Regions from separate parts of the Homo sapiens genome. Here regions 2 and 3 are each linked to region 1. The links come from fine-mapping of genetic effects on gene expression. A gene starts in region 1. Each other region holds a variant in brackets. All regions are shown on one strand. Distances are from middle to middle. Region 1 holds the start of LPAR1 (lysophosphatidic acid receptor 1). Region 2 has its middle 110 kb from the start of MIR7702. Region 3 has its middle 120 kb from the start of LPAR1.

Region 1 (2,760 bases):
CCCGTCACAGCATAACTCACTTGAGGCTTGAAAAGTTTCCGTCCAGCTACGGTTTGCAGTGACCTTTCTCTTCTGCAAAGCCCACGGTTACCTGGTGGCCACCACCAACATAGCCCCGCCTCGCTGTCCTGCGTTTCTCTCAATCAGATCAGTCCTGCCGAGTCCCCATGCCTTACTGCTGGTGTGCTGTGTCCTCTGTGCCATTTCAAGGCGAGGGCTCATGAAACTTTTACTCACACGCTGCTATTTTTGATATGCGGTGGCCTTAGCTGTGGAGCGAGAGGCCGATAATTGTGATCACTCCGGAAATCCTGGGAAGCCAGAAGTGGGAGATGGGTGTTGTGAGGTGGCGTGGCTAGGGAGACCCCATCGAGTGGGTGTGTTATAAGACCTGGGCGAATCCCTGTGGCTGCCACTCTCCTGAGAATGTTCCCTAGGCCTTAGTCCCGCGCCGCTCCCACCCACACCTCCAGGTGTGCAGTCCCCGCCCTTAATTACTCTCACTAAAATTGATAGTTTACACTTGCAAAGCTACACTGGGAAAGCGGAAGAGAAATTTATAATCGTGGATATGGAGAACTAGGGGAGCAGACACACTTGCTTTCGTTTACAGATCCAGTGAAGTGAAAAATCAGAACTAGAAACGTATGCACCTTCCTAGCAGCAAAGCCGCTTCTGCGTTCTTCGCAGCCTCCAGTGCAGGGCGGCGCTGGGAGAAACTTTGCGCCTTCTGGAAAGTTTAGAAAGTGAGCCACGAAAGAGAGGCCACATTTCCGGGGTTTTGCGGGCCCCGCGATGTTTTCCAGAGCTTTTCGAGTGGGAAGAGGAGAGCGACAACGTGAAAATGCCCCGTGCCGGGGCGTCCACCGGAGTCCTGCCAGCTGTCCGGCGCTGGGGTAAGCGCAGGAGGGGCGGGGGTGGGACCCGAGCTGGCGGCCACGGGTCTCCCGCTGCGGGTGTGTCGACTCGGGGGCGGGGCGGGGGAGGCTGCTGAGATAATGAATGGGAGGCTAAGGCCACCCCCCAGCCCCGGCCCTGCCACCACCGTGGGCTGTCGAGCCAATGAATGGAGGAGGGGGCGCAGAGGTCAGGGGCGCTGGGGGCGCCACACCAGGTAAGGGGTCCAGCTTGGGAGCGGGGAGGGCGGACTCTGGGGGTTCGGGTGTTGCTGACTTGTGCTACGTGGAACAAGCAGAAAAGAAGGAAGGCGGAGGAAGAGAGGAGGCTGGCGTCGGCGCTGCTCCTCTGGCCCTCCCTCTGCGCCCCCTCCTCCTGCCAGCGCGCCAAAGCCGGGCAGTAGGGGCCGACTGGCGGCTGACGCTCCCTGAGTGGCGACTCCGTCTCCAGCCCCGCTGCGGAGCGCGGGCCGGATCTGGGGCGGCCAGGGCCCGGAGCCGCGGAGCCCTCCCCGCCGCCCGGCCGAGCACGGGACCCCGGCGGGGTGGGCGCAGGGGGCGGCCCCGCTCTGGGCGACTGCCGAGGGGCGGGCGGAGGGCCGGGCTCGGCTGGCGGTGGGGCGGGGGCCGCCGGGACTGGGCGCGCGGCCTGAAGCCAGCCCGGGGGCGGCAGGAGAGGGACGCGCGGCGGCAGCGAGCGCAGGTAAGGGGGCCGGCGCGGCGTGTGGGGACGGCGCCCCCTGGGCGCGAAGCCAGAGGCCGCGGCGACTGCTCGGCCCGCCACACGGCGCGCTGGGCTCACACTGTCCCGCCGCGGACGGGCTTTGTGGTTGGGGGCGCGCGTGCGAGTGCCAGTGAGAGTGTGGGTGCGCGCTGTGGGCCGCGGCGCGGGTGGGTGGCCGTGCGTTCTTGCGAGCCGGCCTGCAGGAGGCGAGGCTCCCCTGGCCTCCCGCACCCAGCGGCGGACCGAGCCCCTGGAGGGAAGTTGCCGCAGCCGCCCGGGCCGCCGGCCCTCCTGTCCCGCGCCAGGTCAGTGCGCCCCGGGGCCCGCCCAGTGACACGTAGGTGGCCTCCGGTTACCTGGGTCGGGGTGGGTGCGCGGGAGGGCTTGCGAGGGGCCCTCGAAATTCTCCCAAAACCTCGTCCCGCTGGACTTGCACCTCCGAGGGGTCCCTGCGCCCCTGGGGCTCCGCACCTCTCGCTTCCCACTGACGACTCGGTTGTCCCCCACCACCGGGCTGAGGACTTTTAACTAAGTTTCTGTCCAGCCGCCTAACAAACGTGCTTAACAAGTAACAGGAGGTTGTAAGGCAAGGGAGGGACCTGGCTTTGAAAGTTGATGGTTTTGAAATCGACGGCTCCTTTGACTTGCGTAGGACTCCTTTGTGGTGAATGGATTTAAAGTTTATTCTTGTTTTTCTTTGCTGCCATTTGGTCTTTGCAATGTTAAGAGTGAAGGCATTCAGGACTTGCTGCTGCCTGCTGTCTGGGGCCTGAGGTTGTGGCTCTCCGCTTCTGCTCTCCTCTCTTCATTTTTGTTGAAATCCGTGGATTTTTTCATAAATGTGGGTGCTGGCTTGTTTCACTATGGACGCGTCGTTTCCTATGGGGTTAGATAGATATTGGTAAACATAAATATTGAAAATGTGATGATCACATATTGATGATCACAGCGAAATCCTCTATTCCTTCAGGCTCTAACAGTTTGTTTTTCACGTATTTGCATAAGTGTGTTTGCTCAGCTAAGCATAATTGGTAAGCCAGAGGTCTGTGATTCAGAGTCTGCAGTTCTGGTTAAGGGGAGACTGTACACTTGGAAAATGCGAAGTTTTTTAAGAAGTTATTCCCTTGCCGGATAGAAGAG
Region 2 (2,760 bases), 130 kb before region 1:
GGGCACAGCAGTAATGCAGGTCCCATGGGGTGGGGTCCAGCAGTGACTTGAGTCCAGAGAGATGGAGTTGCTCTCCAGCAACTTGGGCCCAGGGATAGTGGGGTGCTGGGTGTCCCAGGCTTTAGGTGGTAAGGTGAAATAACAGCAAGACCCCAGAAATGGAGAGGTACTATGGCTACCCAGGCAATCAGGGGCGGGGCACAGCATTGGCTCCCTTAGTTGGGCTCAGCACTGGCAAAAACTGCAGGGTGTTGAAGCGTGCAGGTGTCTGCGTGGTGATGAGGGCCACTGGGATCCTCCTGCTTACCTTTTCCCCTTGGAAGAAATCCCTTCTGGCTCTGAGCTGATCCCAACTGAAGAATGGAGTAGTGCAAGCAAGGTGTTTTCTACACAGCCATCTTTGGTGTTTGTGCTTCACTGAGTTTCTGCTACCTCTTTGCTGTACTCCCGAGCTCTCTCCACAATTTCATTGGTATATGGTTATTAGTTGTTTTTGTGGGGGAGATGAAGATTGGCACCTTCTAGTCTGCCATTCTGCTGGTGCTACTCTCTAATAGGCTTTTAAGTGATAAATTTAACATGAATTAAAACTTAGTCAAGGAATGAATTGCCTACAATGAAGTATTTTTGAATCTTTCAAATAACCAAGTCATCTTTGGTTGTTTGGTGTCTTTTCTTTAGCTCACATTCTTCCATCCTGCCTACCCTTCTGAAAGTCTGACATTGATGAAGTCTCCTGAGCATCAGTGCACCTGGTATCTACCATGACAACACTGATGACAATGCTAAAAGATTTTCCAAATCCGCAGACCCTCAGGTTGCCTGAGAGATACTGCAATTCCATCAGTTTTCACCAAATCAAAGCTGTGCTGTGTTGTCGGCACAAAGGAGGAGCCTGTACTCTCCCTTCTCCGTATCACACCTTATCACCTGGGTAATACCATTCGCCTTTGTTTCCTTGGGGAAACAGCTTCTTTACCTCTTTCCTAAAATCCCATCTATTCCAAGGTACAAGGCCAGGAACCAAGACAAAGTTATACCTTATTCCAATTAACCCAATTATAGTTATACCCAATGATCCCATTTAAAGAGCACCCTGGCAAGCAATGTTCATCTGAACTATTTCTTGTTCCACATACAATGAATGTAGAAAAATGGATACCTAAGCTATTAGTCCATTCCTTATCTTCCATGCCCAGATATAAAGGAATCTCTTTAATGATCATCTGCAATACCCACCAACAAATTCATAGGCTGAGTTAGGAATTAATGATGCTCCATTCCCTTGTATCTTTCTGAAAATCTTCTTCAAAGATGGTGAGAACTCTCTACTTCAACACTTACTGTACTGCTACTACTTGTTTGATCATAGCAAAACCATTTTGCTCATAGCCCTCATTTTCTTTCTCCACGCAAGTCACTATCTTTACCTATATTCCAGAGACACAGTGAAGCACAACTAATTGACTCTAGTCAATCTATAGTGAAACAAGTGGCAAGAGAAGCCCAAAAATAAGCATTATGAAAATCTTAAGACTCTAAGCCAGTGAATTAAATAAAGAGGTAAAAGCCTGCATAAGAAAGAGAACTGACCTTCTGAGCTTTTGTCCCTCGGGGAATATTAGTTTTACCTTTTCTGCTAAAATGATGGCAGCTAGGCTGGGAACTTAGGCTAGATTATTTATTTAATGTGACAGCCCCTCCTCTCCTTTCTCTCTCTCCAACCCTTTCCCCATGACCTTTCCAGATTCTTCAAGTTTTTTTTTTTTT[A/TA]TTAAACTTCATCGAAAAATCAGAATTAGGTGAACAGGTATTGAAAACTTGAGTTACCTTTTGTTGCTCTTTGTTTCAAAAAAACGTTTAAATATTTCCCAGATGATCTTTACCTATGGAAATTAACGGCAGCAATTGCAGCCTTTAAAAAATGTTAAATCATCTCACTGATGTTCAGAAAAAACAAAAGTTCTGTAGTTCCAACTGCCTGTGTGGCAGGAGGAAAACTGAATTCTTGAAAAAGTCCTGTTGATTACAGCTTTCTCTTGCTAAAAGACTGATTGCTCAATGGGAAGTGGAAGATCACAAATCTTCCGCTTTTGGAACTAAATGATAATAGAGTTTTAATACCCTAACAAAAATAAAACCTCCTCCTGAGTGAGCTACTCAAACCCTGCATTGCTTGACTAATGTGTTGAGTTAAGTAGGGAGGCCTGCAATGTAGTAATTTCTCCAAGGAGGCTGCAGGGAGAGGAAAGTACATTCCAGACACCTAATCATTTACAATTGAGTTTAATGAGGTAGTAATTTACAGCTTTGGGGGTGGAAGTTTGGAAAGGTCCCTGCCAGAAACTGGACAGACTCTAAAATCCTGGAGTTTAACGAAGGCATTAGAGGGTGGTTTCATACAGCCGAACTTGTGTAATTCCATCTGCTCAGTGCTTGGACAGGAAGTAAATGACAGGGCACTTGGGACCTACATCTGCAAACAACAAGTTTCAGAGATTTTATAAATCCTGCAGTAAAAGGAGAAGAAGAAAAAAGAAAAAAAACGGAGGTGAAAGGGCATAATTATGGAGGATGAGGAAGTACAACAAAGAACGGGCTTTGCAGGTTCTTTTTGGTTTGAAAAATAACATTTTCTAATGTCAAGGCCAGCCTTTGATTATAATTGACAAAACACACTTATCAAGCCTGATATGAAAACAGAAGGTACTGAAGCTTCCTTTTTGGACAGGATTTGGATGAAGGCTACAGAGTAGTTCAGGA
Region 3 (2,760 bases), 120 kb before region 1:
TCAGCCTCCCAAAGTGCTGGGATTGCAGACGTGAGCCACCATGCCTGGCCACAACTCTTATTAAGCTCAAATTTGTAGCCTACTGCTATCTAGTGTACAGGATTTTATAGAATGTGCTTCATGTATTAATTCTGTCACCTGGTAGTAGTTAATCTCTACTTTTATTTCTCAACTTCATACATTTTTCTATGTTTTATTTTATTGTGATACCCGGAATGATACTGTGTACACTAATGGCTGAGCCTTTATACTCCCCTCTTCCTTGGTCATTGAATGGCCAATCTGAGGTTTCCCTGAGAAGGGTAAGACCTTGGGCAAAGCAACTCTAGGCAGCTGAGGCTGACCCTGAAGGAGGTGTCAGCTGGAGGCTCACCAATGACCACATTCCCCATAGCTGGGCAGCAAGTCCTTTCTTGAAAGGTGACCTGGGTCATGCATTGCTGTGTTCACCACAGCCTGGTTCTGAGAAACTTGGGAAAGTCACATCCCTGGCCCTGTCATGTGGGATGGATGAGGTGGTTCTCTGTAATATCTGCCCCTTCTCATTGTTCCAAACACTGCATTTTTCTCAACCACAGCTTTTCCTCTTTCCCCTGATGGGTGTTTATTTAAATTGCTTTAAAGTCACTGGAGTAGCTTGACTTAAAGCTTTGATGTAAAGTGTGCCTGCAAGACCCTCAGCATGTAGCTGTTCACACATAAGCCACAGCAAGACACAGCTGTGACAGGGGAAGAGGCCTCATTGCTGGCCCTGGAAGGAAATCCCAATTAAATTGCACTCATGGTTTTATATTTAATGAAAACCGCTTGGTGTGCTGCTGTCATTGTTTCATTTTTCTGTGGTGTTTTTGGTGGCTTGCAGTTTTGCATGCAGTTCCCAACCTCTGAGCTTTCTGTAGGTAAATAAACCTGAAATTGTATTAATGCATTGTTGGCTGCCATTTCCATTTGTCTACACCCAGAAGCCATCTCTGCTGTTTTCAATGAACTTTTTGTCCTTGAAGCAAATTAATCAAACTCAGCTGGTGTCATCATTTTAAACCCACAAGAAAAACAAAATTATTTTTCTCTTTTTACATTACCTGCTTCTCCAATCATCTCAATTAAGTTCTCCTTGGGACCATCTGTCTAGTGGAAGACAAATGGAGAAATGAATATGAGTAGCAGAAC[T/G]GCAAACAGGTTTTTATGAAAAGAAATTATATAATTAAACAAAGTGATATGCTTTGAATTTTCAAAGAAATATAAAAACCTATTTACAATCAGATACTCTCAGCAACTAATTTAGAGCAGTAATCTGAGGTCAAAATGTTTTAAACACTCCCAGATCATGGCAACTGTTTATTTTAACAATGCTTACTTAGAGTTGGTGCTACCAAATTTGCTTTTAAAACTCAGTGTGTGATATATCCTTTCCTAGTATTCCATTGGAGTTTTAATGGTATAGAAAACTAGATAAGGACCCTAAAACCAGATAAAACTAAATTAATAAATATCATGCAAACTATGGATAATAGGAGAGCATGTTTCAGAAAATAGAACTAACTTCTACCAGATGCAATGACACAGAGGCTGGATTGAAACTAAAAGATTATAACCTATACAGACTTCCTTACTAATGCCATTGAGTACTGCAAGCTGGAAAATAAAGCAGAGAGATATTTTGATTTTCCACTATCTGGCCTTAACTCTGAAAAACAAAAGATTTACTGGCCAGAAAAAGGTCAGTTTCCCTCCTGACCTCATATATGTGAATTCTTTTGTAAGAGTGTCAAATATGCTTTCCTCCCTCTCAAACTTTTATTCCCCATCAGATACTCAGATTTCTTTCTCTCTTTCCTTTTTCCTTTCCTTTCCTTCTTCCTCCTCCTTCCTCCTCCTCCTCCTTCCTCCTCCTCCTTCCTCCTCCTCCTTCCTCCTCCTCCTCCTTCCTCCTCCTCCTGCTTCCTCCTCCTTCCTCCTCCTCCTCCTTCCTCCTCCTCCTCCCTCCTCCTCCACCTCCACCTCCTTCTTTCTCTTCCTACTTCCTCCTCCTCCTCCTTCCTCTTCCTCCTCCTCCCTCCTCCTCCGCCTCCTTCCTCCTCCTCTGCCTCCTTCTTCCTCCTCTACCTCCTCCTTTCTCCTCCTCCTCTTACTACTACAGTTGCATAGTGTTTGCTTCAGGTAAAGAAGTTACATGTCAGGAAAGAAAAAGAATATTGAGGGTACAGGGAAGGCTTCCATGGTAGTATATCTGAACAAAATAAATCTTTAGACTGCACCGAATTTTCTATTATAGTCTGAGGCCTGGAGTTACACTAAAAGTCTCTGTGCATTAGTCTTTCTGAGATAGAGATTTAATCAGGATGGAAATAAATGGAAGAAGAATGAAAATAAGCTACATATTCTGATTGTAGGCAAAAATAAAGTCTGAATGAACATCTTGTTTAAGCATGAGAAAACAGAATAACATGAGGTCCATGAAATATTCTTAAATGTGCATTTTAATACATTATAACACAAACATTTTTAATGTTATCATTTACTTTAAGTATATTTTAATTATTATATTACACAGAATGGACAGTTTTTTTAGTTATTCCCCTGTTGTCAGATATTTAAATTATTTTTCTCACTAACAGAAGATATAATAACCAATTATTATGAAAATTATAAATTTTTAATTTTTAATAAAAAATTCTATAATTTAAATTTTGTTAGAAAATAGTCATAGAGACTGGGCATGGTGGCTCCCAAAGTGTAATCCCAGCACTTTGGGAGGCC

The links.
Region 2: its variant is fine-mapped to the expression of LPAR1 in monocytes (CEDAR, PIP 0.95).
Region 3: its variant is fine-mapped to the expression of LPAR1 in whole blood (INTERVAL, PIP above 0.99).

The regions. Positions count from the first base shown.
Region 1 is chr9:111,037,006-111,039,765 of GRCh38, reverse strand. LPAR1 (lysophosphatidic acid receptor 1) reads left to right here and starts at 1,296. Exons shown (of 6, transcript NM_001351411.2): 1 at 1,296-1,599. It overlaps LOC124902248 (a long non-coding RNA gene), which reads right to left. Exons shown (of 2, transcript XR_007061732.1): 1 at 1,977-2,760; 2 at 1-311. RefSeq lists a silencer at 1,527-1,866.
Region 2 is chr9:111,163,601-111,166,360 of GRCh38, reverse strand. No RefSeq gene overlaps it. Among named protein-coding and RNA genes, the nearest start is that of MIR7702, 110 kb to the left of the region's middle. RefSeq lists an enhancer at 596-2,760. The variant A/TA (reference allele first, on the strand shown) is at 1,771.
Region 3 is chr9:111,152,129-111,154,888 of GRCh38, reverse strand. No RefSeq gene overlaps it. Among named protein-coding and RNA genes, the nearest start is that of LPAR1, 120 kb to the right of the region's middle. The variant T/G (reference allele first, on the strand shown) is at 1,171.